4 linked regions of the Homo sapiens genome follow. The protein of the gene in region 3 interacts with the protein of the main gene of each other region in a pairwise test. Each region holds a gene or a part of one and is shown on either strand. Other genes may lie near its edges.

Evidence for each region.
Region 1: the proteins of CEP70 (region 3) and SFR1 interact in binary tests that used the Homo sapiens proteins (3 or more experiments, as listed by UniProt).
Region 2: the proteins of CEP70 (region 3) and ZBTB49 interact in binary tests that used the Homo sapiens proteins (3 or more experiments, as listed by UniProt).
Region 4: the proteins of CEP70 (region 3) and CLPB interact in binary tests that used the Homo sapiens proteins (3 or more experiments, as listed by UniProt).

The regions. Positions count from the first base shown.
Region 1 is NC_000010.11:104,117,931-104,125,198, forward strand, and holds the start of SFR1 (swi5-dependent recombination DNA repair protein 1 homolog), read left to right. Parts: upstream 1-4,240; 5' UTR 4,241-4,253; coding exon 4,254-4,266; exon of another isoform or gene 4,267-4,835; coding exon of another isoform or gene 4,836-5,034; coding exon 5,035-5,156; intron 5,157-5,783; coding exon 5,784-6,194; intron 6,195-7,268. UniProt on the Homo sapiens protein: Component of the SWI5-SFR1 complex, a complex required for double-strand break repair via homologous recombination. Acts as a transcriptional modulator for ESR1.
Region 2 is NC_000004.12:4,300,246-4,307,273, forward strand, and holds part of ZBTB49 (zinc finger and BTB domain-containing protein 49), read left to right. Parts: intron 1-1,743; coding exon 1,744-2,846; intron 2,847-5,892; coding exon 5,893-5,939; intron 5,940-7,028. UniProt on the Homo sapiens protein: Transcription factor. Inhibits cell proliferation by activating either CDKN1A/p21 transcription or RB1 transcription.
Region 3 is NC_000003.12:138,493,829-138,500,273, reverse strand, and holds the end of CEP70 (centrosomal protein of 70 kDa), read left to right. Parts: intron 1-49; coding exon 50-164; coding exon of another isoform or gene 165-177; exon of another isoform or gene 178-390; intron 391-2,163; coding exon 2,164-2,243; coding exon of another isoform or gene 2,244-2,410; exon of another isoform or gene 2,411-2,938; intron 2,939-2,946; coding exon of another isoform or gene 2,947-3,011; exon of another isoform or gene 3,012-3,364; intron 3,365-5,197; coding exon 5,198-5,259; 3' UTR 5,260-5,930; downstream 5,931-6,445.
Region 4 is NC_000011.10:72,298,510-72,305,537, reverse strand, and holds part of CLPB (mitochondrial disaggregase), read left to right. Parts: intron 1-2,576; exon of another isoform or gene 2,577-3,189; coding exon 3,190-3,234; exon of another isoform or gene 3,235-3,573; coding exon 3,574-3,735; exon of another isoform or gene 3,736-4,805; intron 4,806-5,076; exon of another isoform or gene 5,077-5,172; intron 5,173-5,357; exon of another isoform or gene 5,358-5,575; intron 5,576-7,028. UniProt on the Homo sapiens protein: Functions as a regulatory ATPase and participates in secretion/protein trafficking process. Has ATP-dependent protein disaggregase activity and is required to maintain the solubility of key mitochondrial proteins.

The sequences.
Region 1 (7,268 bases), on a different chromosome or scaffold from region 3:
AACCTGAATCACTCTATTCTTCTCCAAGGGAACACACCCAGTAACAGCAGTGAATCATAGACACTATTGCCTCTCTAGTCTCTAATGGATTTGACAAAATGCCAGATCTGGGAGAATAAAAGGACAGGAAATTCAGGTGAAGGGAGCTTTTTAGGTTCTTGTTTAGTACATTGTCCTGAATATTAGTTATTAGATACATTTTCTAGCTGCCTGGTGATGGAAAGGTTTCATTGTGCTAATAATACTGATCCTCTCCGTATCTCCGTGTTCTAAGTAACCATCCTACTCAGTGAGGCAATCGCTCCGGCATGCCTAACAGCTATGTCAAGGGCCCTTTTCTCTTGAAGTTGATAATAAAACCCTCTCTTGCATATCTTGGCTAAAGAATATGAAATAGTTAAATCATAAAGGTCAATGTTTGGTAACAAAGTCTCTACAAGTGCAGCCATTACACATTATGGAATTCCATGTGAGATCGTTAAGGTAATAGAGAAAAAAATAGAAATATTTGTCAATTATTCTCAAAGAGAAATTTATGAAATTACACAGCACTAAAACATCACTTTACCATGGATGGGTCTATAAGATGCGACTTGAATTCATGGCAAGAGAAACTCATAGAAGAGTTTTTGAAGGGCATTTTCAACTTATGTACAAATGTCATAAGAAGTGTTGAAAGTCAGTTAAGAGAATTTGGCAGATTTTCTTGTGTTATAAATTTGTATTAAATTTAGTTTGTTTAATTTGTCCTAATGGACATCATAAATCAACAGAATCATGTGGATTTTACACAATTCCTCACCCAAGTGGATTTTAATCCTAGTTTCAGAAGCGTATATTTTTATCTTTGTTTCTTTTTTTTTTTTTTTTTAGAAGGAGTCTCTGTCGCCCAGGCTGGAGCGCAACGGTGTGATCTCGGCTCACTGCAATCTCCGAATCTCCGCCTCCCAGGTTCAAGCGATTCTCCTGCCTGAGTCTCCCAAGTAGCTGAGACTACAGACGCCCACCACCACGCCCAGCTAATTTTTGTATTTTTAGTAGAGACAGGATTTCACCATATTGGCCAGGCTGGTCTTGAACTCCTGACCTTGTGATCAGCCCGCCTCGGCCTCCCAAAGTGCTGGGATTACAGGCGTGAGCCACTGCACCCGGCCTATGTATTCGTTTCTTTTAAAAAAAAACCTATGGATACTAGTTATGTCTACATGACACAAAAATTTTTGTCAATACAGAAAAGTCTATGGTAATATAATTTAAGTTAGCTTGAGACTATTGTTAAGATTAAAAAATAATACTAAAGCTGAGAATTTAAAAATTAAAATGAACATTTTAATTATGGCTAAAAAGTACGTGTGTTTGTGCTTTTTTGTATAGGTAGAGAGAGAGACTGAGAGACTATTTACTATTCTTTTCTTGCCATTAGACAAGAATAAGAATAAAAAAAATTTTTTTGTAAAACCTCATAAAGATTTTAGGTCTATATCATCATCCCACCAACAATAATTACAGACAAGAACGAAGCATTTTACCACTCCCTGATGAGTAACAAAGTAGCCAACAGTAGCCTTGGGTATTGAAGAAATTTTAAAACACAAGGAAAGCCTGACTTAAGTTGATATTAATTACTATTATTATTGGAGTCTACTGCTTAAATTGTTCTCTATGGCAGGGTAAGGAGTCTTTGCTTCCTGGCTCACTGGGCCAGTATTTTTTCCTGCCTGAAAAGTTTCATACGAAACATACAATGTCCTGTGTCAGAAACACCAAAGTCTTCACAGGCTAATAGATTTGAAGTCACTTAAGACATTGAAATGTACGCTATGCTTTATCTAAAGGTACAATTAAAAGTATGGGGGCTATATTCCAGATCTCTGACATGAAGCCGAGAGGAAACTGGATTTCCAGTTTGTTATGTGAAAAGGTTAAGTAAAATACAAACTTCTGTACAGGGAGATAATTCAGTTCTAATAATGCATGAAAGCCAGAGATGTAGATCAACAAATGCACATTTCTGAAATACGGGTTTTTCTGAGTATATGTTCTGAAGTTCTTTGAAAATCTGGCCAAACAATCCCATTTTAAGATACCAGTTCACATAATAAGCAAGTCAGAACATTTGCAAGGCAAAATGTTGTTTTCCTTTCTGCAGCCAGGAAAAACACAGCTCTAAGCTTAGGTTGTAACGGTAAAAGGATTTGGGAGCTGCTGATTTTAGAGACTCATAAAAACAACTCGCCCTTATGCCGGGAGGTATAAAGAATATGCAGAGTCTGCACTGTGCTTCTAGTGTCAGGACAAATCATTCTGCTTTTTCTTTGAGATTAACTGATGCCAATGGATGAGTAAAGGGAGAAATAAATGTACAGACTGAGACCTGCAGCTTGGTGAGGTGAGTAACACCTTTATCACAAAATCATGAGTTCTCTCTTCCCCTTTGTAAATTCCTTGGGGTTAACTTATGTAATTTTAAAAAATTTTAGGAGTGAAATATGTATTATTAATCATATGTGAGGCTCTACATTTTCTGCTATTTATGGTTTATATTGTGTGGGATCTTACAGATCACAGCATCTTTTTAAAATATATGTGCTTTTTTGGGGGGTGGGAGATAAATCAAGGGGTGAAACTGAAGGTGATACATTCCCTTAAATCCATTAGGGAATGGTGAATACACTTGCATATATAAAATAACTACTGAGTGCTTCCTAGATACCTAGCTCTGTTCCAGCTGCCTCTCACCAGTTCTCATTTAATTCTCCAATCCCATATTAAGAGGTGAAGAAACTGAGGCACAGAATCACCTCATTAAGAAGCACATAAAGTATGGTGCCAGGATTTGAACCTAGACAATTTGACTGTAACGTGTACGCCCCTAATCATTCCCTTAGGTAGTCCTCAGGTTCTGTAATTATTATACCTGACTGCTTAAGACTCAGGTAACTCCCTTTTGGCCACTTCTAAGCCACTACTGTCAGATGTTATTAATAGTAAAGAGACGATATCAATGTTTAAAATGGCCATTCAATAAGAGGACTGAAAACACTGGCCCCTGGAAATTCCCAACTTCCACGTGACTCAGAAGTTACTCAACTCTTTCACTAAACCCAGTGCTCCACCCAATGTAGCTAACTTTGTCGTCGCGTAGCAACAGAACCTCGCCATACTGGAAGCGGGGCGCGGGGGGGGGATTTTCTCGACTGAGGATGCTGCTGCCCGGTAGCCAGCAAGGGCCCTGTCGGTCTCAAACGTGAATTTTGGACCGACACAATCTCATGTAGTGATTGTTCTGCTTCCTGTGTTGCGCCACAACAAATTTCCTTGGGCTACATTTTCCCTCAGATTTGAGTAAAAGATTTGAGGTCACGCTAAGGAGCCTGCATACTGAGGTACAGAAACGGTTTTTTGTTTACAACAACAACAAAAAACCTCGCGACGGGACCGCCGAGTTTGCGGCAGCCAAAAAAGCTAGCGATGAGCTCAGCTAAAGTGCCGGGACTCTCGGATAGATTTCTAACATGTTTGAAATGTGGACCCCAACGCTGGAACCCAACGCTGTTCTTTTGTGGTCTCTGGAACCACCACGCTGGAATAGGCTGGAACCCAACCAACGCTGTTCTTTTGTGGTCTCTGCCTCTGGGGAGTCCACAAGCTGTAAATCTAACATGCAGCCAGCCGTGCGGCTTCTGGCCGCCCCACGTCTGAGTAAAGCCTTCACTGTGACTAGCAGGGAGAGGAGACTGACTGGAGCCAGAGAATGGAGGCGGCGGGCTGGCGGGGGTGGGGAGAGGCACTTTCAGGCGCACTTCACAGACGCACAAAAACAAGGAAGCCTGAAGGGAAGGCGGTTGAAAATAAGGCAACAGAAGCCGCGAACGGAAGCGCGCCCCCCTCAGGATTGGTTTAACATTCCGAAGCTCAGCCTCGCCCGCCCCGAAGACCTGCTGCGGATCGCGGCCGCGCGCGCGCGCACTCACGCTGCTCTCGGGCGCTGGGCGGGGAGAGCCGCGCGCACCGGTTAATTCTGCCAATCATGCGTCTGGGCCTCCCATCGTGTGGGCCAAGCCCCGCCCCAACCACCCGCTGGCGGAGGCGCGCGCGCAGTCCCACCGCTCTGAGTCGCTGAGTGAAGCGGCGCCTCGCGCGTCAGGCAATCTGGCCAATTGCGCATCTTTTCCGCCTACCGCACGGCCCCGCCCCTGCCACAGGATCGATTTACGGCCGCAGGTGCGCGCGCTTTTTTGCTCTCGCTGGGAATGGCGGAGGGAGGTACCCTGCTGAGGGGAAGGGGGGATCCCTGACACCTGGGCTTCCCCGGGAGTCGGCTGTGGAGTCGAGTTGAGCTCCCTTTCCGGGTCTGGGGAACTCAACCTCACCTTATGCCTGGGGTCTCCGGGGAACTAGTGGGCTTTCTGCAACGGGGGGAAGGAGGGGACGACTCCCGCCCCTAGTTTACCCCTCAAAAGTTAATGCCTTTGTCGGAGGAAGCAATTTCAGTCCACTCTCCTTTTCAGTCCCTGTTGGCCGCTTAAACTAAAAGGCTACAGACGGGCTTAAATGCGTCTCCGCTGTGTTTCTTATGCCTCGGGCCGGCAGGGTAACGGGTTCTAGTCACAGCTTGTAGAGTTCAGGATGGGTGACATTCAGGTCCTATTGTTTTTGAGTCAAGGTTTCGGCTATAGCTTCTTGAATTATGAAGCTGTCATAATAAAGAATTCCTGATTATCTAAAGCTGTTATTCTTCCCTACTTCCAAGGCAGAATTTGAATATATTTTGGTGGATGAAACGAAAACAAGGAGAGTCTTGTGACTATGAGATACTAGCTGGTTGATGTATCATGAAAAACTTAGTGGTCCCTATGTGGGAAGGTAAATGGAAAACTGCAAAAAGAGCAAGAATGAATTACAAAGTGAAATTAGAAGAAATATCTGGCTTACTTGTGGATGCTTTGTACACCAATACAATATATTATTTGATAAAAGTCGACTATAGAGAGGTGTGGTTAATTCGATTATTTTATAATTTTTCTTTTTTAGAGAAAAACCAAGATTTCACTTTCAAGATGGAAAGTCCGTCAGACTCAGCTGTGGTTTTACCTAGCACTCCTCAGGCCTCTGCGAATCCATCATCTCCCTATACAAATAGTTCCCGAAAACAAGTATGAAAATCTTTGTTCTTCCAGTGGATCCATTATGTGTTTCTAAGTATTGTGGCAGTGGTGGTTTAAATTCTACGGAAGGTTGTTAATTAACATAATGTGTAGCATAAATAAGTAGACATTTTATTAAATAATTTTGTTTTTCTTCTAAGGTGACATATATGACACCCACCAGCCCCCTTCCATATTTTCCTCTTGAATGAATTCATTTCAGTTAGTTTCAGATTAGGTTATTACAATACTCCAGATGGAGAAAGTTTGCATCTGTGCAATATTATTATGAAGGTCTTTAGTGGCAGAGTCTAGGTCTTTTCCTTACTCTGTAATTCTGAAGCACCTGGAGTACTATCAGGCATGTGCTTGTTACTGAACAAATGTTCCTTGATTACTGGGATAAACTTCTCAACACTTTTGGAAAGGTGTTGATCTTGCTGAAGTAAAAAGGAAATAAAACAAATGGAGCTTCCAGAAATTAAAGTCATTTTGTGATGCCTTCTTTAGATGTGGAGACAGAAAGCCATCTAGTGGTGTCTAGCATAGAAATGGAAGGACTTTATTTCTGGTGATTTATTGACATTAAGAATGTTTTTCTTGATTCACATTTTTAATGTTTTGTGCTCTTTATAGCCTATGAGTGCAACACTTAGAGAAAGATTAAGGAAAACAAGATTTTCATTTAATTCCTCTTACAATGTGGTGAAACGTCTTAAAGTAGAGAGTGAAGAAAATGATCAGACCTTTTCAGAGAAACCAGCATCTTCCACAGAGGAAAACTGTTTGGAATTTCAAGAAAGTTTTAAACATATAGACAGTGAATTTGAAGAAAATACAAATTTGAAAAATACTTTGAAGAATCTCAATGTCTGTGAATCTCAGTCACTTGATTCTGGATCATGCAGTGCTCTCCAAAATGAGTTTGTGAGTGAGAAGCTTCCTAAACAAAGATTAAACGCTGAAAAAGCCAAATTGGTGAAGCAGGTTCAGGAGAAAGAAGACCTTCTTCGGAGGCTAAAACTAGTCAAAATGTATAGATCAAAGGTGAGAAGAATTTCAGGACCATTGCATAATTTTTATTTTTACATAAATTACAGGAAAGTAATTTCAAAAATAGAATTTTTTTTTTTACCATAATAAGCAATAAGCCAAATATTCAGAAACCTGGCTTCCAACAGCTTTAATTCAACTCCAGATTTAGAGTAGAAAAGGCCCTTAAACACCAGGTAAAACTTTTTAAGAATCTCAGCTCTGATTTAATATGCAGTTAAACTTTTCTCTCTAGTTTCTAGCCCACAGCAATATTAGAAGTATTAAATGTTAGATGCAAGTACAATGGGAACAGAAGTGAAAGCTGACAGTGAATTAGTAAAACTAAAAATGGGCTGTAGAGTACAATAAAAGGTATTTTTAGTAATGATCTTGTGTCTCCCCCAAATAATTAATGTGATTCAGCCATTTTATTTGAGAAAATATATATATATATATATTATATTTTAGATTTCAACCCATATAGGTTGAATTAAATAGAACTTGGGTACTTGGAAGGAGAATAATCTTTATTACCTGGAAAATTCATATATATGCAATAGCTCATTTTCCCTGAATTACGTGGAATAAGTGATGGGATAGTGTATCTCATTTGTTCTCTTGAAATTCTGGAGTTTTTAAAAAATAAAATTTAGGAGTATTGAATGTTGAAAAAATATATTTTATTTATTTATTCATTCTTTTTTTAGAGACATGGTCTCTGTTGCCCAGCCTGGAGGGCAGTGGTGCAGTCATAGCTTATTGCAGCCTTGAACTCCTGGGCTCAAGTGATCCTCCCAACTCAGCCTCCCTAGTAGCTGGGACTACAGACATGTGCCATCACACCTGGCTAATTTTTTAAAATTATTTTTTTGTAGACATAGAGTCTTGCTATTTTGCACAGTGTAGTCTTGAACTCCTGGGCTCAAGCAGTCCTCCCACCTTGGCCTCCTAAGGTGCTGGGATCCCAGGTGTGAGCCACCATCCCCAGCCTAAAAAAATATTTTTAACTTGAATATTGTAATTTTAAAGAGCAGTTTTAGGTTCATAGCAACATTTAGTGGAAAGCATAGTGTCATTTTTTAAAAA
Region 2 (7,028 bases), on a different chromosome or scaffold from region 3:
GTTTGTTAACCATTTTTATTATTTTTGCTTTTGTGTTTAGAGTAACCTGAAAAGAAAAGAGGCTCTTAAGTAAAATGAATTTGGGATGATTGAAAGTATTTTGGTTGTTTGTCTTTCATTTTACTAATTCTGGCTAATGTCAGTCTTCTACATATATTTCTTATCCTTTCAAGATAAAATGATGGAGGAATTAAGTTCCCGGTCAGAATTTTTCTGTGATAAGAAATCAGGGGAAAAACATATTTGGTGTTGGATTTTTCTTTTCTTTTTTTTCTTAATTAAAGCATTTTAGTTTTTGTTTCTCATTTGAATATTCTAAGAAAACCTTATAATCATTTTGGCTTATATGAAATATTTATTTATAAATAATAATACTAAGAAGTTGTGTTTCAGCTTATTTAAACATTATTCTGTATTCCCAGCTACTCAGGAGGCTGAGGTGGAAGGATCCCTTGAGCACAGGAGTTGGAGGCTGCAGTGAGCCGTGGTCATGCCACTGTACTCCAGCCTGAGCAACAGAGGGAGACTCTGTCTCTTAAAAAAAAAAAAAAATTGTTAGAGTTAAGTGATTCTGCATAAGTTCATTTTGTTGTTAGCAGGTTTCTCTCTCTTTAAATACAAAGTCTTTTTTTTTTAAAGTACTTTTTGTTTCCAAAATGCATACCGTTTTACTGCTCTAGTAGACAACGTGGGACATGATTTGCTCTTTCCTTGATAATCCTGAATCATCAAATTGAGTCTCAGTTATTGTATAGACCACATTACACATTGTAATGAATCAGCTTCTTAAGGTAGGTAGCAGGTTTTGTTCCTAGGAAAAATGGTCGCAAACTCTTGGGTTTGCTATCACCTGTTTTTTCTGTCTTCCCAGGACAGTTAAATTTTGATATTGTGATACACAGGCTGTTTTGCGCTTAAAAACAGAACTGAAGGCTGTTTGGGGGAAATAGGTGATTGTATTTGACAAAATGTCTTCAACTTACTTACCTGAGCTTATTATTTCATACATAATACAAATTTGTTCACCTGTGACCTTGGCTTGTACCCAGAATAAAGTGCCTGGGCTTTAGAGTGCATTTTGGTCTTCACTAACTCTTAGGGTTTTTCTCACTGTTGGTTTTTGAACCACTGGCTGGCTGAAAAACCTAACAGCCAAATAAATTACTGGTTACAAAGGAATGTATGTGGAGGGTTGGTTTATTCTAGCTATTTTTTTTTAAGTTTTCTAGGCACTTAGATGTGGAAATATTTGTGTATATGGTTTATGGCCTAAAATATAATACTTGTCAGACTATGAAATAGTGAAAAGTATATATTATTTAATTTTGTGTACTCTATTAGTATGTATTTAATATATATGGATAATTACCTTTCGAAAAAATATTTAGAGCAATCTTTTATTTCTTAGATCATATTGGGAATTATCTTAGAAACTTCTTGATTTGTGGTTTATCAGTCATATAAATGTATGTAATTTTTTATTGTGTAAATTTGAGTATATTTCAAAATTTACTTTGAGATATATTTTGAAGTCTGCATACCCAATCCACCAATTTAATTCATCTGAATTATTTAGTTGGATGGTTTGCCAGGTTGTTTTAAAGGATTAAAATGTACTTATGTTAAAAGTTTTGACATTCACAGAAGGATAGTATTTTTTAATATTAATATATGAATGTTATTTATAAGAAAAAGATGGTGTGAATTTTTGGCACTGTAAACAGATATTCTTTCTTTTACCAGGAGCCTCTTTCAGAATTCTTCAAGCCAGAAGAATGATGTTTTTCACTTGGATGTTAAAAATGTCAGTGGCATAGGGCAGATCCTGGACTTCATGTACACTTCTCATCTAGATCTTAACCAGGACAATATACAAGTAATGCTGGACACAGCACAGTGTTTGCAAGTTCAAAATGTTCTGAGTCTGTGTCACACATTTTTAAAATCAGCCACTGTAGTACAGCCACCTGGCATGCCTTGTAATAGTACATTGTCTCTACAAAGCACCCTGACCCCAGATGCCACTTGTGTTATCAGTGAAAACTACCCCCCTCATTTACTGCAGGAATGTTCAGCAGATGCACAGCAGAACAAAACGTTGGATGAATCGCATCCGCATGCTTCACCATCAGTTAATCGTCATCACTCCGCAGGTGAAATCTCAAAACAAGCTCCTGATACTTCAGATGGCAGCTGCACAGAACTGCCTTTCAAACAGCCAAATTACTATTACAAACTCAGAAACTTTTACAGTAAGCAGTACCATAAACACGCAGCTGGTCCCAGTCAGGAGAGAGTTGTTGAGCAGCCTTTTGCTTTCAGCACCTCTACAGACCTTACCACGGTAGAGAGCCAGCCTTGTGCCGTCAGTCATTCTGAATGCATCCTGGAGTCTCCCGAGCACTTACCTTCCAACTTCCTGGCCCAGCCTGTGAATGACTCTGCCCCACACCCTGAGTCAGACGCCACATGCCAACAACCTGTCAAGCAGATGAGGCTCAAAAAGGCCATTCATCTGAAGAAGCTCAATTTCCTGAAGTCACAGAAATACGCAGAGCAAGTATCTGAACCCAAGTCAGATGATGGTTTGACAAAGAGGTTGGAATCTGCTAGTAAAAATACCCTAGAGAAAGCTAGCAGCCAAAGTGCTGAAGAAAAAGAAAGTGAAGAAGTCGTCAGTTGTGAGAATTTTAATTGCATTAGTGAGACGGAGAGGCCTGAAGACCCGGCTGCCCTGGAAGACCAGTCCCAGACACTTCAGTCCCAGAGACAATACGCGTGTGAATTATGCGGGAAACCTTTTAAACACCCAAGCAACTTGGAGCTTCACAAACGGTCTCATACAGGTAACTGATTCAGTACCCACAGGCAGAAGGGAAGGACGTAATGCGGATGCTCAGACACCACTGGCTCTTCTTGTTTTTGTAAGAAGTTTTGCTGTTGTTTGATGTCATTGATGATTTTAAACAAAATAAGGGGGATTAACTACTTTTTGTTTTATATTTTTGGTGATGCATCTGACTTAAAGTTTTGTAAATGGTTTTATAAAGTCACTTTAAAAAGGTGCATACTTTTAATTTTTATTTCAACTACATTTTTATATGACAAGCCATCTGTCTCTAAAGAAAGTATAGTAATTTTGGTGCACCCAGAATTTCAAATTAATTCTAAAATGGATAAGCTATATTTAGTTGTCTTTTTAGAATTAGATTAAGCTTATTTTTTGAAAGCATCATATAGGTTAATTTAGACTAACCTAATATACTTTGAATGATTCTACAAGTTCTCTTGGAAGGAATTTGAGTGTCTAATTTTTAAAATTCTAATTTGGGAGTCAGGAAGTAAACTTTTTAATAAGAATCAGCTTTAACCATTTGATATTCTCAAAAGAAAATTCTTCCAATTTAAACATTGAATTTTCAAAGTTTTGTTATCTTAATTCATGCCTCTTTCTCTTTCCCAAAAGATTTTTTTAAGGTATTCTCTCTCTCTCTCTCTCTCTCTCTCTCTCTCTCTGTGTGTGTGTCTCTCTCTCTCTCTATATATATATCTCCACACACACACATTATGTTATACAATACATATATATTACTTTTCTTCCTATAATTAAACATGAGTTTAATAGCACATTACAGATGAACAACAATTACCTTATAGGCATGAGAAGTAACATGCAACAGGATGCTTCCACAGCAGCTGCTTTTACGGTGTTTGTGTAATTGTGTTTGTTGATGTGACCTTCTGTTATCACTATGGATTCACAGTTTGCATTTTACGACCTTGTATTATTGGGAGATTTCTTTGATAATTGTGAAGGCCCTTTATACATTTTAGTGCATTTGAATATAAAGTACTGTTATTATCACTAGTAGTTCAAAATTATTCCACGTGAAGGCAATATCACAGACTTAGTTTTGCCCTGAAAAAACTTTAGATGATTCTGTTTGCCTAAATCTCCTACAGCCTAATGATTACTGCAATTTTTTTTTTTTTTTTTTGAGACAGAGTTTCGCTCTGTTGCCCAGACTGGAGTGCAGTGGCACAATCTCGGCTCACTGCAACCTCTGCCTCCTGGGTTCAATTGATTCTCCTGCCTGAGCCTCCCGAGTAGCTGGGACTACAGGCATGCGCCACCAATTTTTTTGTATTTTTAGTAGAGACAGGGTTTCACCATGTTGGTCAGGCTCATCTTGAACTCCTAACCTCAAGTGATCTGCCCACCTCGGCCTCCCAAAGTGCTGGGATTACAGGCATGAGCCACAACGCTTGGCCCGATGGCTGTAATTTTTTATTGTGAAACTTACCTGCTTAGCTTTTAAAGGAATCAAAAATTGTTTATTCTGGGAGAACCTCTTTGAATGACAGATACAGTCATGGCAAAGATGCTTACTGGCACATAAATATTCTACCGAGAAGGGCAGCAATTCTCAAAGTATGGTCTGGGGAACCCTTTTTGGGGGTCTGTGAGGCCAACACTATTTTCAAAATTGTCTAAGATGTTAGTTGTTTTTTCCTCCTCTTATGAGTGTACAGTTAGTCTGCCCAAAGCTACATGATGTGTGATGAAGTCCTCACCCTGGTGGCCTGTGAAGTGTGTATTTACCTGTTCTAAAGGTCACTCTGTTTTCATTTCCAGTATGGTAGATATCAATAGCTATAGCCCATATTAACAAAAGCTCTTTAGGACCTCAATTTTAAGGTGAAGGGGTCCTGAGGCCAAAAAGTCTGAGGCCTACTGGAGTAGGATTGTTAACCTTGGTCATTTATTAGTCTTAGTAACTGGTGACCTCTCTCTCTTTTCAAATTCTTATATTTCTTATGGGGGCTTTAACTTATTATCTGTCACCCCCAATAATTTCAGACATAAATGTAGTTTCATTTATTGCAATACAGAATTAATGTAATTATTAATTTATTATTAATATAAATATAATTATTCAGGGTCAAGGAAGCCATTAGACATTTTCAGGATAAAATAAAATTAAAATATCCTAGAATGAGCCCAGAAAGCTAGCAAGCTGCTTTCTTCAAGGTAGCAAGCCCCAACGATATAGTAGGAAGGGAAAACATTATTGTTACTTTTTAAAGAAGATCTTAATGAAACCATTTGATTTCAGGGAAATGGAGAAAATGAGAGGTTCTTAGTGTTCAAAGTCTATTCATTAGCGTTATATAGATTAAAGGCAGTACCATGGAGTGTGCTTTTAAATTCAGATCATGTTCTGTAGGCCACATTTCAGAACAGCTGTGGTTTTTTTGTAGTAGAGTACCATTCTTAGAATCTGTTCTGTCCCCAAGCGCAGTTACTTAGTTATTGAAATTAGAGGTGATAAAGAAGTCCGCAGAGGAGCACATCTCCCAAAATGAAATCTTACTTTCTCTCGTGAGAACCAAGGCAGGAAGACTGTGGTGAGGGGCTCTTTCCTTTTCACACTCATGCTTCAGGACGACCCACTGTGTTTGGGGCTCTCTGTGCTCATACCTTGTGTGGTGTGAACCAGTGACCCTGTGTCTGTTAGGATTGGTGGTTGGGTGGCATCAGGCTGAAGAATAGGTGAGCGGGATCGTGCTGTTCAGCAGGAAAACTCAACCACAGGAAAAGACCACTTCCAGAACGTGGGTCTGCTCTGGATGCAAATAAATACATTGATTTTAACATAAGTTTTGTTTGGAGAACAGTTTAAGTTTTTAGAGGAAAATATTACTTTTATCATCTCTGTGTAGAAATAAAGGCAAGAGAGAAATATAAGGAAGTAGACACTCCCTATTTTCATACTGTTAGGATGCAGAATGTAATGCCATTTTGAAAGTACATAGGAGGTCATTTAAACAAAAAATTATTGAACAAATACTAGTAATGATTTTACAAGTTGTTGTTTTGTTTTGTTTTAGGTGAGAAACCTTTTGAATGTAACATTTGTGGGAAACATTTCTCTCAGGTGGGAATACTCTTATTTATTGTTAATAATTGGAAACCTGCAACACAGTGTTTTTTTATTGGAAATAAGACATACTTTTGTACTTGTGAGAGAAGCCTCTAATGATGTCTGTAACTTAAAGACTTCAGAATAAATTAGGATAAATCGTTTTCAAGAAAACAGATTTCTAGTTCTTTGAGAGAAAAATAGCATTTTCATGTGTGAATTCTTACAATACTTTTTTCGCCTTGCTAAGGATGAGTCCAAACTTAGCATATGTCTTCCGTTTCATGAATGAAGTTCACAGTGAACCACCTTGAGCTTGGCGTACCTGGAGGCTGCACATTGTGCTGGGTTAGGCTGAAGACAACTAGGTCTCCTCATTCTTGTTGGGACTGTAGATTGTAGGATGTTGGAAAAAAAGATGAAACAAGTTTTGTTCCCTGTGTTGACTGCTACCTTTAGCTGACCTCCATTAAGGTCATTTGGACACATAGGCATTCAGTCCTTGAGGAAACGTTTGTTTTACCCTCCCATGGGCCAGGTGCTGTGCTGGGCATGGGACACAAAGAAACCTAGAGACCTAATGTTTTCTAGAAAATGGCTTGTGGGAACCTATTCTTTCTGAAACAGAAGGTAACTATTCACCGCCATGTGCAGTGCCCTGGGCTTCCAGAGGTAGATCAGATGGAAGCTGCTCCAGGGCGTGAGGGCGCAGCTCTTCAGGGCACAGTCACTGGCACGACTGTCTCACACAGCATGGTAGATCCTGTGGCAGCAGTGCATGCCTCTGGAGCTGGGAGGCAGGCCCCGCAGAGCTTGGAAATGGCAAGCGCCGTGTTTGCTCGCATTCCCCCTAGAGCAGACTCTTCCAGTTTCTCTTCATCTGTTGAGGGTGTCAGTTCCATTTGCTCACACACCCAAACCTGCCATCTTAATGACTCTTCACCCTCCCACTCTCTGAGTCCCTGCCTGCTGGGATTCACCAAGTCCTCGCCGTCTCTCATCGCGTACTCGGTCGGGTCATGTCCTCCTGAGCACTTCATTTCTCTGGGCCTGGGGCCATGTCTTCTCTCCCATCCAGGAGAACACCCAGCAGCCAGCAGATGC
Region 3 (6,445 bases):
TAATTTTGGAAATTCTCTGTTAAAATATCCTTTTATTTCTCTTTTGCAGATAGTTCATCCTCATTGTGTGTGCTAGTAAGCACTGTTGGAAAACTCTGTAGGCTGATTAATGAAGATGTGAATGAGCAGGTTATGCAGGTATTAGGACCTGAAGACCTCCAGAGGTATTTGTTTTAAAAGTTTACAAAGTATCATCCAGAATGGCTGGGTGTGGTGGCACACGCCTGTAGTCCCAGCTACTTGGGAGGCTGATGTGGGAGGATCACTTGAACCCAGGAGTTTAAGTCCAGTCTGAGCAAGGCAGTGAGACCCTGTCTCTAAACAATAAAAATTAAAATAAGTATTATCGAGAGTTCCTGGAGGGGTGAAATTAAAGACTTTCAAAACTTATTTACCTTCCCTGTTTGGAATAGCATCTTTTGTGTGTGTGTGTGACTGTAAGCACACGCCACCACGCCCAGCTAATTTGTGTGTGTGTGTGTGTGTGTGTAGAGAGAGAGATAGAGACAAGGTTGCACCATGTTGCCCAGACCAGTCTCAAATTCCTGGGCTCAAGTGATCCGCCTGCCTTGGCCTCCCAAAGTGCTGGGATTACAGGTGTGAGCTACCATGCCCAGCCTTGGAATAGCATCTTTTAAGTAACTTGACAATCTAAGATAATCTCAAACCCTTAGGGATGGAGGAAATGCCAAATATTTTCAAGATAAAAATAGATTGTAAGGCCTATAAAGAAGGTCAGGTACTCTTCAGCATAAGCCTGTTTTCAGGAAATATTATATATGGAGAAATTCAAACCTTGTTAGCAACATCATGTAAGTTCTGATTATATCAATAAGTTCTATTTTTAGGACACTACCATAGACCACTGAATAATCATTAATAGTATATTTATTTGATTAGAAGATAAATGTTGAGGAGTTTTTAAAAGACTAGGCATCTATAACATAAAAGCTGGTATTTTTAGAAAATATCAAGACATTGTAGCTATAGTTAAAGCAACTTTCCCCACACCTGACCCCCAATTTTATATTACAGCATATGTGAAGGGAAACACACAATATATACCACATAAACCATATGTTTTGCAAGTTTTCCTAGAAGAACCCTTACATAATCTGACACTTGGTGCTTTTAAAAGGAACATATATCTTGCTATTGGCCTATTTCTTCCTTCCCACAGTTTTACTGACTACTGATTTTTTTTCTTTTTTTCTTTTCTTTTTTTTTTGAGACAGAGTCTCACTCTGTTGCCCAGGCTGGAGTGCAGTGGCTCAGTCTCAGCTCACTGCAACCTCCGCCTCCCAGGTTCAAGCAATTCTCATGCCTCAGCCTCCTGAGTGGCTGGGGTTACAGGCATGCGCTACCACACCCAGCTAATTTTTGTACTTTAGTAGACGTGGGGTTTCACCATGTTGGCCAGGCTAGTCTCGAACTCCTGACCTCAAGTGATCCTCCTGCCTTGGCCTCCAAAGTGCTGGGATTACAGGCATGAGCCACTGTGCCCAGCCTGATATTTTTTCTTAATGTTTAATAGGATACTGGGTGTAAAAGCCAATTATTTTTAGAAAATGCTGTAAAAGCATGATCTAAGAAGCCTTGAGCTTAATGGGAAATTTGCCATGTTAAGAATGTTGTATATTGGCTGGGCGTGGTAGCTCACGCCTGTAATCCCAGCACTTTGGGAGGCCGAGGTGGGCGGATCACGAGGTCAGGAGATTGAGACCATCCTGGCTAACACGGTGAAACCCCGTCTCTACTAAAAATACAAAAAATTAGTCGGGCGTAGTGGCAGGCACTACAGGAGGCTACTCGAGAGGCTGAGGCAGGAGAATGGCGTGAACCCGGGAGGCGGAGCTTGCAGTGAGCCGAGACAGCGCCACTGCACTCCAGTCTGGGTGACAGAGCAAGACTCTGTCTCAAAAAAAAAAAAAAAAAGAATGTTATATATGAATTTAACAAATTTTACATTGATATTGAAATGCTTTTTTAAGAAAAGTGATATTGGATTAACAAAAAGCTCAGAAAGAAAAGACTGTAGTAAATGATCATTAAGTTTATATTTAAATTAGCAATATAGTTTCTATTTTGAAAATGTTCTGTTTGCAATCAGATGCAAGAACCCAAAGTTAGAAATCAGGTTTAAATTGTGCATTTTTTAAACAGCATTATCTACAAATTGGAAGAACACGAGGAATTTTTCCCAGCATTTCAGGCATTTACTAATGATCTACTTGAAATCTTAGGTAAGATCTCTGGTGGTGATGGTGAAATTTTGAGTCTTAAAATGTCAGTGCATTTAAGAAAAGGGTGTTCCTTGGTCACTGGATTAGTATTTTTACCTAGTGGTTGGAAACCACTAACAGTTCTGGAAACACATTCCTTACAAGCAGTTAGAGTTTGTTTGGATTAGTCCATAGAACAGAAACACAGACCCTTAACAGCAATAGGAACTACCTTTGTTGGAGGACCTTATCATGAGAGATGGCATCATTCTGTCCATGCCTAGTTTAACCCTGGCTCTGTCATTGTCTAATGAGAAATATTCTTAGGATTTATGATCTTAGAAGGTCCTTCCTCCCTCCTTTTTTTTTCTTAAGATACCACCTATCTACAAAATTTTTTAAATATACAAATAATATTTCCTCTCTGGTTATATGAAGTAACATAAAGTCATAAATATCTGTGGAAAGGAAAAGATGAAATATTACACTTATACTGAGGGTCAGATTGAGGGCTTCATTAGTAGTAGTGTCTCCTAAAAGGAAAAAATTTGCTTAGGACTCATAAGGCAAAATAGAGACCTTATCTAGTTTAAATATAATTACATATGGCTATAAAATTATTTATCTTACTATTAAGAATGATTTTTAAAGTTTTAAAGTGATGTATTCACCAGTGAATTTTTTCTGTATAGCTCATTTGAAAGATTTTTTTTTTTTTTTAAAGAATGGCTCTTTGCTTTTAGAAGAGGAGATGAAGCTTGGTATGAAAATAAGGGAATGAGTCAATGAAAACTTGATAAGAAGAATAAGTGAAAGAAGTATCTAATTAGAATATATAGCCTACTGAACATAAAGGAAGTTTTGTGACCAGTCTTATGTGCAGTGGGGAAGCAAGGGAGACAATGAGTGAGCTTGCTTTAGGCTTGTCCTCATGTTTAAAAAGATCACAGCAAGTGAAAATGTAATTTGAAAGTTAAACTTGAGATGAGGTATGAAACTGTATAAGTGTGTTGTCTGATATCCTGAAGAGCCTGGTTTCATAGAATAATATGATTCTTGCTTTGGGATTGCTATTAACTTAAGCAGTGATGTTCTCATCATTCATAAATATTTGGCACATTAATAAACATATTTTAATAGGGTGTGCTGGTAACACTTATTTCAGAATGCTTCTATAGAAACTTCCTTTCAGATATTATGACACTCAGCATGGTTCATAAAGATCATTTGCTTCAGAAAGCCAGGTTTCTCTGGAGATGAATTCTGTAATTTGGTCAAAGTTGAAGTTCTGGTGTTAAACATTAACATTGGGAAAGTTAAATCTGGCAAACATGACAGTTTTTTTAATTAATAGGTGTCACTAAGCATGTAGGTGCAGGGTGGCATACTGAGTAACAGACATGGAGAGTACCTTTAGTGAGTAAAAAAACAATCCATTCTTTTTCTCATGTAAATGGTGTGATTGACTGAGGAAATTCCCATATCGGCCAAGGTCCTTTGCTGTGAGGTTCATTTGTAAGGCAGGTTTCTCACTTAATGAGAAAACAGGTGTAATTTCAGAATGGGCAGGGGGCGGAGTCAGGGAATACCTTGATCTTGTACCTTACCACAATGTAAGGGAATTGTAAACAAATTCTCTGTTGTAGGTTTGCTTATATTGTTTCTGTTCCCATATCTTGATGCTTTGTTAGTGGGTTCAGACAAGTATTCTGACTGAAGTCGGGAGCTTAAAAGAACTAAATGAATAGTAGGAGAGCATGGGCTATGTGTGTAGGCTAAGTGAAGAGCAACCAAGATCCAGCTACACAATGGAGAGAGTTGGAATCCAAGAAAGCATGCTTTATGTAAGGGAACGCGTTTATTAATGATGGCTTAACAGAATAAGCTAGAAAAAAGTGTGGGTATCTAGAGAACCTGCCATTGTGGCTTACCTTAAGTAGGGCTGGGATCTGGATAATGAGAAAAAGGATTTTGCTCCTTTGGTGGCCAGGAGCTTCAGAGAGTGAATTCTAACTTAGGCTGGTTGGAATAAGATAGTCTTAGGAAGAAAAATCAAATTCAGAAAGAGCCTGTCAAAAAAGAGCCTGGATTGGTTTATCTGGTAAGCTGGACCAGGCTAAGCTCTATAATATATTGTACTTGAGGTTTGTACACTCGATGAGGCTATCTTTTTGATTAGGCAGATAATTGTTTTTTTTGAGACATAGTCTTGCTCTCTGTCACCCAGGCCAGAGTGCAGTGACGCAATCTCAGCTCACTGCAACCTCTGCCTCTGGGGTTCAAGCAATTCTCCTGCCTCAACTTCCCAAGTAGCTGGGATTACAGGTGCCCACTACCACACCCAGCTAATTTTTGTATTTTTAGTAGAGGTGGGTTTTCACCGTGTTGGCCAGGCTGGTCTTAAACTCCTGACCTCAGATGATCTTCCCGTCTCGGCCTCCCAAAGTGCTGGGATTATAGGCATGAGCCACTGCACCCAGCTGGCAGATACCTTTCATCTTAGAGTGATCCACTACTAAGAAATCTTCCCAAGAAAATTAAAGAGGACAAGACTGTTCTATGAGAAGAAATTCCTAAGTCCTCACGTGGAGACCTAGGGAGGAGACGCCTCTACCTGGGATTTCATCATGTAGATGCACCCGTGTAGTGATACAGATCTAATGAGACACTAACATATCACACATGTGGGCAGTTGGATCTGTTAATAAGGACATGCTGCTAATGAAGTTAATACTAGAATCAGAGGGTACTTGTGGGTATGTGGTAACTTATATAAACAGAGCCCCTGTGAAGCATCTGTATCCGAATCAGTGATAATCTATCATCACTATCGGAGAAAAACTTCATGTGCACAAAAGCACCAGTATTATTGCCTTTATGTTTGGGGTTTGCCTTTGCATATAGGTTCTTGTTTCATGTGAGTTTACCACTAGAAAAAGTTACTCTCTTTTATTATTACTGTTTTTGTATTACAGAAATTGATGACTTGGATGCCATTGTACCTGCAGTAAAGAAATTAAAAGTACTTTCATACTGAAAACAAATCAAATCATTTTTACTGTGTAAATTGTATTCTTAACATTTTGTATTTTGTAGGATTGATCTTATTTTGAGACAAGGGTTGTAAAATGTATTTGCTCTCAGAATTCATCCCCTTCTTAGTATTAGGTCATTCTTCATCTGTATAATTTTTATTAACTTTGAGATTCTTATACAGAAAATAGTTGCAAGGGTAAGGTAATTAACTTTAGATCCCTTCATTTCTAAAGCAATTATTGAGTGCTTAAAATTTAAGGTTGTTTTAGAGTGGAGTTTGTGAGTAAAAGAGGAGCCCAGGGAGACAGATTGCAAGTAGTAGGTTGCAATCTTTTAGATTCAGCTTGTAATAATCTTTGAGCCACACCAAAAGGAATGCCAAGGGCTCTCTAAATTTAGCCAGTAGGAAGCTACTGCTCTCCTGGCAAGGATTAATTGGCACATTCTGTTAAGATATCCCTCATGACAGTTGCCCTTTCAAAGCAGGAGGAAGAAAAGGAAGAAAGAAAAACTGTTTCATCATTTCTGTTAGGGTAGGAAATGAATCATAGGGTAAAATGGATGAGTAGATAGAAGTCTCTCATTTAAAAAGTGTCTTTTGCAATCTTGATGTAATGCACTTTTTATAAGGACTTGAGATCTCAAATAAAATTTCTGTAAAGAATTTCCAAACATAAGTGTCCTCAGTGATGCTTGTATATTACTGACAAATAATGAGTCATATTCTCTTCCTAGGCTGAACCTTCCTTGGGCAACTTGTACATCCTTGCTGCATTTTATGTAAGAGTACTTTACTTGCTGCCTTCTGTTTATTCTGTATTCTCAATATGCAGTCACGTTTTCTTAAGGGTCAGCGTTCTGCCTCATACCCATAAGTACAAGTCACTTTGGACTATTCTTCCCCACTTTTATAAGCAGCAGGTCTAGGAAGATTTCTCTGTCATTCTTGTTGGTGGGCATATAGAATATTATAACACATTTCCAGGAAGCAGCATGGTGGAATGGTGAGTAAATGTCAGCAAACAAGCATCCACATCCTTGGTGTTATGACCTTAGGGATCAGACGTAAGATAATAGGCTCCTTCTAGATTTAAAATTCTTTGTCATGATAGCCTGCAGTTACATTTCTAAACACTAACTTACAATTTGTGGAAGACCTTGTGTCTTGAGGGTTGGGTACAAAAAGC
Region 4 (7,028 bases), on a different chromosome or scaffold from region 3:
TTTCAGCTCTCTTGCCTCAAGGTGAAAGCCCTCCAACCCATATCTTAGGTTATGGTGAGCATCAAGTGACGATGCTGTGTGCTCATCACTTATGTCATCACATCATGGTGAGCACACAGCAAGTGCCTATTCCTTGACTTGTATTTATTCGTCACTTCCTACTTACCATAGCAGTGCCCCATCTACTCTCCCATTTGATCCTATGGGGAAGATAGCATGGATGCTAAATTAGACCCACTTTTCAGATGAGAAAACTGAGGCCCTACAGCATTCTTAGGCTTATCTAAGGTCACCTATTAGGGGAAGAAATAAAACCAGAATCAATCCAGTCTCTCAACTCCTCACTGTGATACCGTTGTTCTCAGCTGCTCTAGGAAGCTGGATTGGAAACTTGCCAGTGTGTCCCCATTTCACATTGGGAGATGAGAGGCATGAGAAGCTCCATAAAAACAACCATGTATTTTATTTTTAAATCATAGGTGGTGCTTCTATGAAACTCCTGCCTGTGCTAGCCCTGTGGGTCAACTCATTATAGAATCTGTGTTTTGCGTAGACACTTTATAGCCACATGACAGGCATGTTTGAGACCTGCCTTCAAAATCCAAGAGAGCCCTGGACTTTAAGCTACGTAGCCAGTGTACCTGGGACCCAAAGAGTGATGTATGGAAAGTGTCATTCTCAGAGCCCAGTGTAAAATAGACTTTTACCAAACAGAAGCTCCCTTTAATTTGCCTCCCAAGACAGCTGACGAAATGAAATGAGCACTGGCCTGGAGTCTGATGATGTGAATTCTAGTTCTGGCTCTCTGATCCCTAGTTTCTTCATTTGTAAAGAGACACTGACACCTCCAGATCTTGCTGCTTCAGAAGCATTCTTTGTACATTTATATGATTTCTTTATCAGATCTGTGAACTTATTTTTTTCTCTCATTAGCCTGTATACTATTTCTTCCAAATTGAGTGGCTCTGTTAACTTTCCTTACTAGAGCTAATAAGCCTTGGGAAGGAACCTTAATGGTGTTCTGTGATATCATCATAAGGTAGGGTGGTGGAGCCCAAAAGACTTAGTTATAGTAGCAATATGATAAGGGATAAAGAACAACTATCTGAGTCCAGCTGCTTGGGTTCAAATCCCAACTGTACTCTACTAGGTGGAGTTGGCCAGGACCTCTGTTTACATCAGCTTTCTCATCTGTAAAGTAGGCTCCATAATGGTGCCAGTCTCACTGGATTGTTCGGAAGGTTAAATGAGATAGTGATGTAAAATGTTAAACGCCGTTCTTGGCATGTGGTAAGCAATCAGTACATGTTGGATGTTACTCTTATTGTTCTTGCCTCACTAAGATCATGTGAAATCAAAATGATGATTCCGGCCAAGAAAGTCAAGCCCAAAAACTTGTTCAAAATTACATAGCAAATCATTAGAAGAACTAGGGTGAGAACCCAGGTCACTTGACATAAGTAAGCACGAGAGTCTATAGTCCATCTGTCGTCCGACATTCATTGGCATCTGGACACAAAGCTCAGCACCCTTCAAGGTGAAGACTGTCAAGAGCCCAGCTGATTGGCAGAGAGGAAGCTATGAGGCAGTGTAGCATGATGGCTAAGAGCACAGACTTGGAGCTGAATTGCCAAGCGCAGGTGACCTTGAGCAAGTTACTTTAATCTGTGACTTAGTTTTCTCATCTGTAAAGTGGAGATGATAGTAGTGCTTACCTCAGAGACTTGTACATGTTCTAAGCCCTTTATAGCTTGCCTAAAACATTGCCAGGCACATAGTAAATACCCAGTAAATCCTGAAACCTGCAGATCTCTTGACTGAGCAGCCTAGGGACCCTCTGGAAATGCTTTCTGGCTTATGCCCCATGTGCTGATAGCAGTGCTTTCCCCCATGTGGCCTTAATAACTTCTCTAAGCCCTGTCCCACCTCTTGGATTAGATCCTCAGACCCCTGGTGAGGCAGGGAGAGGAGCCAAGAGCCTTCTGTAACACAGGACAAAACTGCAGCTCAAAAAGGGGAGGCAGCATGTCCAAGGCTCCACAGGCAGGCAGAACTAGGACTGGAACCCGAGCCCCCTGGCTCCCAGCCCAGGGTTCTTCTTGCCACCCTGTGTCTCAGCTGTAGAATGACAGGACAGAGAAAGAACTAAAAGTACATCATGGCGTGAATTTCTGACCAGTGGCCAAGCTAGAATATAGCCCTGGATTTCAGACATAGCTACCTCCCGCTGAGAATCTTGGCACCCCCATCATCACCGGCTCTCAGGAGAAGCAGGATTCAGTGAATGCTGTCTCTTAGATGGAGGCATGTGCCAGTAGGAGAGGAGCCCGGGGGACTGTGGGGAACTGTGGTCCTGGCTGTGGCTAGACAGGGCACCTGTGGATGCCTTTACAGCTCCCTAATCAGGTAATGCTTCTTGAAAACCAGTGGGCACTCTGCCTGTGTTAACTCTTCAGATCACATAATGCAAGCTGTTCTCTTCCCCAAGGGCTAACCATGGCCCTCACCCATGGGGCCACTTCCTCGGAAATCACCCCTACACCCTGTGGTGGAGAGAAAAGGGCTGTAAAGCTATGTTATGGATATCTTTTTTAATGAAATGAAGAAATGTAAATACATTTTAAAATATATTCATTTTGAAGAAAAGTAAATCAAAGGGACACGGGCATCACACAGACTTGCAGAGTTGAGAGGCATTCTGGAGCCATCTGAGTGTTTCTCTCCTCCCTCGCACCACAGTCCACACTGATCGTGACTGACTTTGTCCATGTCTGCACCATTCGATGGGGTGCTTCTTAAGGACAGAGACCAAGACTTGTTCCCTGTTGTAACTCCGGTGTCCAGCACACACAGGATGCCCTCAGGAAACGTGGAATGGATGGATGGGTGGGTGGATGATGTGGTGATCAGAACAGGAGAGGCCTCCCTGAAAGAAGACACCCCAAGTCAGATTTAGAAGGTCAGGTACATGATTTGGGTCTTTTAAGGAAGAGAATGAGGGACTCGTAGGAAATGAGTGCACAGAAAAGGAGACAGGAAGTCAGAAAAAAACATCTTGAGCGTGAGATAGAAGATCTTATGTTGGTGTGGTGTGAAAGCCTTGGGGATAGTTGAGGTGCTCTCCTCCCTAACCCTTCTCTTCACTTTCCTGCCTCCAAACGGAGTTGGTACTTGCTTGTTTCCACACAGGGCTTCATCAGGCTGGACATGTCCGAGTTCCAGGAGCGACACGAGGTGAGTGATGACAGTCCTTGATTGAAGCATGGTTTGGAGGGCTTGTCAGCATGACTGCCGGGGTCTTGTCATTTGGGCCTCAGATAATTCCAGCAGCCTTGGGATTTGTCGTTGGGAGCACAGGTGTGCAGCAGGGTCACTGATTTGTTTCACATAGGATTTGCTCTGAAGAATAAACATAGAGAAGATCTATCTGCCACACCAGGAGATGGACAGCCAATCATCTCTGTTGAGAGAGGCAACCTTAATAGCGTATAAAGTCATCTTCCCATGCATGCCCCATGTTGGAAACTAAAAGCACAGAAAGGCCTTCCTAGCATGTTTCCTTCCTTCTACCAGGTGGCCAAGTTTATTGGGTCTCCACCAGGCTACGTTGGCCATGAGGAGGGTGGCCAGCTGACCAAGAAGTTGAAGCAGTGCCCCAATGCTGTGGTGCTCTTTGATGAAGTAGACAAGGCCCATCCAGATGTGCTCACCATCATGCTGCAGCTGTTTGATGAGGTGAGTCACCTTGGGCCAGGATGGAGCGGGGGGACACCTGGAGATAAGGGGGACTGTGAACAGCAGAAAGCAAGGGCCCAGAGGCTAGCTGGTCATTCCTCGGCTTCCTGCTCCCGCATGTGTACATTCATTCATCCAGTAGGTGCAACTTAGCCCCTCTGCACTAGGGCCTGGGTGGGGCACTCAAGCGAAGACCAGCCCTGCCTAAGAGTTGAAATTGTGTGGCTGCTCAGCCCACCTTCTAGAGAGACATGGTATGGCAGAGGTGCCATGAGAGCGAGACATGAATTTTTAGTTCCAGCTCTGCTCCTGACTGGCTTTGTGGCCTTGGCAAGTCACTGCCCATCTCTAGGCATCAGAGATCTCATGTGACAAACGAGGAGGCTGAATCAGAGAAGCCCCAAAAATCCTTCTGCCTCAGACAGCTCTTGTTCCTCCCTGTGTGCCAAACATTGTCTCCTGCAGTTCTTTAAAATGCTAATATTGTTGCTGCTAATGGTGAGATGCTGATACTCTGATTCATGGAGCCTTTCTCTTCTGAGAATCTGAGGGTTCTCACAGACTGTCCAGTTCCCCTGCTCGTAGGGGTAAGTTCTAAATGGAGAGAAGAGCTTACTTCTATCCAGTACCTTCTGTGTACTAGACCTGTACTAAAGACGTTACAGCCATTATCACTAATCCTCACAAGGTAGGTAGAAAAATTCCTAACAGGCAAGGGAGAAATTAGCTCATTTTTTACAGATGAAGAAACTGAGGTTCAGAGAGGTTATAAAAGACATGCCTAAGGCCACAGCTGCTGTGTAAAGAGCCAAGATTGGGCTGCAGATATGTCTGATCCCAGAGCCCCAATTCTCCCCCCATACCACTGTTTACCTTGAACCAGGCGAGGGATTGCTTACGATCACGGAAGAAGATGACTTCCACCTTTTCAGGGGCCCTGCTCCATCAAGAGAGCGTGAGGAGCCAAGGACTGAACCGGGGATGAGGCCTCTCTTCTCTCATGCAGGGGCTATATTAGCTAGCACCTGGCCATGAGTCCAGCTCACCTTTCTACCTAGTCTCCTGCAGCCCTAGGAAAACAAAAAGGTGGTTTGCTTCCCATGTCATAGGAGGCCACAGGGAGGGGACTCCTCCAGACCGAACAGCACATCAGGTACCAAGCCAGGAAGATCCAGATCCAGATCTCCTACCAGCTGCTCACTGCCTTCCCCACCTGGCCCAGCCTCCTTGCCCCTGCCCGTTCCGTTGTATCTTCCTAGCCCTTCAGCTGCTCCCTGCCCCTGAACCTCTGCTGAGGAAGAAGAGACCAGTCCTTCAGAGGTCACATACTCAGTTACTCACGTGTACACTGAGGCCTCTACTCCATTCCAGCCTCTTGATGGGATTCAAGTGCACAGCTATGACCAGACCCGAATGTGCCCTCTTGGAGCTCTCTGCCTGGTAGACAGGTGGAAAGGAGACATGGTAGTAGCTGGCATTTTGCATTTTGTGTGCCATTCGCTGTCTTCAGAGGCTTATGTGTATCAATTTAACCCTTTCAACAACCCTCCAAAGCTAGCTATTATTACGGCCTCCATTGAACAGATGTGGAAACTGAAGCAAAGTAAGATTAAGTCATTTACCTGTGGTCATGCAGCTGGGGAGAGAGAATCAAGGATTCAAACCCAGGCAGCCCAGTTCTAGATCCTGCAGCTTGAATGACTGCCACGCAGCTAGGGCCAAAAGAGCGAGGTCCGTCTCAGTGAAGCACGCAAGGGACGGGACCATGCCGCTGAGGGAGGGTGAGCATCGCGGCCTGTTTGATCTCTGGTCTCCCTGGAGAGGCACCTCTGATGGCATTCTTGGCCCAAAAAACAGAAGGCAACTGCTGACTGAAGTACAATCAGCCATACATGGAAGCCCTGTCTCCCCCTCCTCCGTCACTTCACTCCACTGACTGCCTTTTAGGGGTTGATAGGAATTCCTTCCTGCAGCTGTTGTCGCCCCTTCCCCCAGCCCCAGCCTACTATAGTTTCTGATGCTCTTGGTTCCATTGACCAAAGCTGCCATCCAGGTTTACTCGATTTAGGCTCTTTGAGGATGGGCCCTTGTCATGTTCACTTGAACCATTCCCAGAGCCCACAAAGTCAGGGGAAATGTTGTATTGACTAATTTAATTCAACAGTAGTTTTAATTCAACAGTAGTTAGCAAACCTTCAAAGGGTTAGTAAGTGCTAGGTGAACAGAGTGGCGGGGCTGGCAGTAGAAACCTAATGTATAAAAGTACAGGGCATGAAACAGGCTGGCATGCTCAGGGAACTGCAGCTGGTCAGTACTGCTCGATTGCAGAGGGAAAACAAGGACAGAGTGCTAGAGACAAGGTAGGTAAGGTAAACAGGGCCCAGTTAAAATGCCAGGCACAGAAGTTTGCATTTCTCTGGTAGAGAGTAAGGAGCCTTTTAAAGACTTTAAGCAAGAAAGAAACAGTCAAATTTTCACTTTACAAAGATGCCGTGGGCAGCTGTGTAAAGAATGGATGAGAAGGGAGAGGGTCATTAACAAGGAGACTGCTGGGGAGCCCAAGCTACAGCTGGGGAGGCCATGGGCTGGAGAAACTACTAGAAGGTTGACTGAGGAGAGGAGGAGGAGCCAAGGGTGGCCAGTTGGCTGCTGCCAGTTGGCCATCAGCTAAGGCGGCGAACACAGTGGGAAGCCGCAGATTGAAGAGGAAGGTGAGGCACTGAGGTGTGGAAATGTTGAAGGTGAGATACCTGAGGGACATCCAGATGGAGATGGCCAAGGGGCCGTTCATCAGTTTTATGGGTCAGGAGTTTAGGAAAGGTCTGACTGAAAATAGCAGTTCAGGAATCCTTCAGCCCAGAGAGGTTAACGGAAGCCACAGGAATGGATGAGGTCTGTAACCCAGGGAGTGTATAATGTGCAGAGAAAAGAGGGCTATACACAGAGCCTTGGGACCTATCAGGGAAGTCAAGACAGACTCGCCAGAGAAGTAGGAGGCAAAACCAGGCCAGGCATGATGGGTCACACCTGTAATCCCAGCACTTTGGAAGGCCGAGGTGGGCAGATCACTTGAATTCAGGGGTTCGAGACCAGCTTGGGCAACATGGCAAAACCTTGTCTCTACAAAAAATACAAAAATCAGCTGGGCATAGTGACATGTGCCTGTAGTCCTCACTACTCAGGAGGCTGAGGTGGGAGGATGGCTTGAGCCTCAGAGGCTGAGGTTGCAGTGAGCAGAGATTGCACCACTGCGCTCCAACCTGGGCAACAGAGCCAGACCCTGTCTCAAAAAC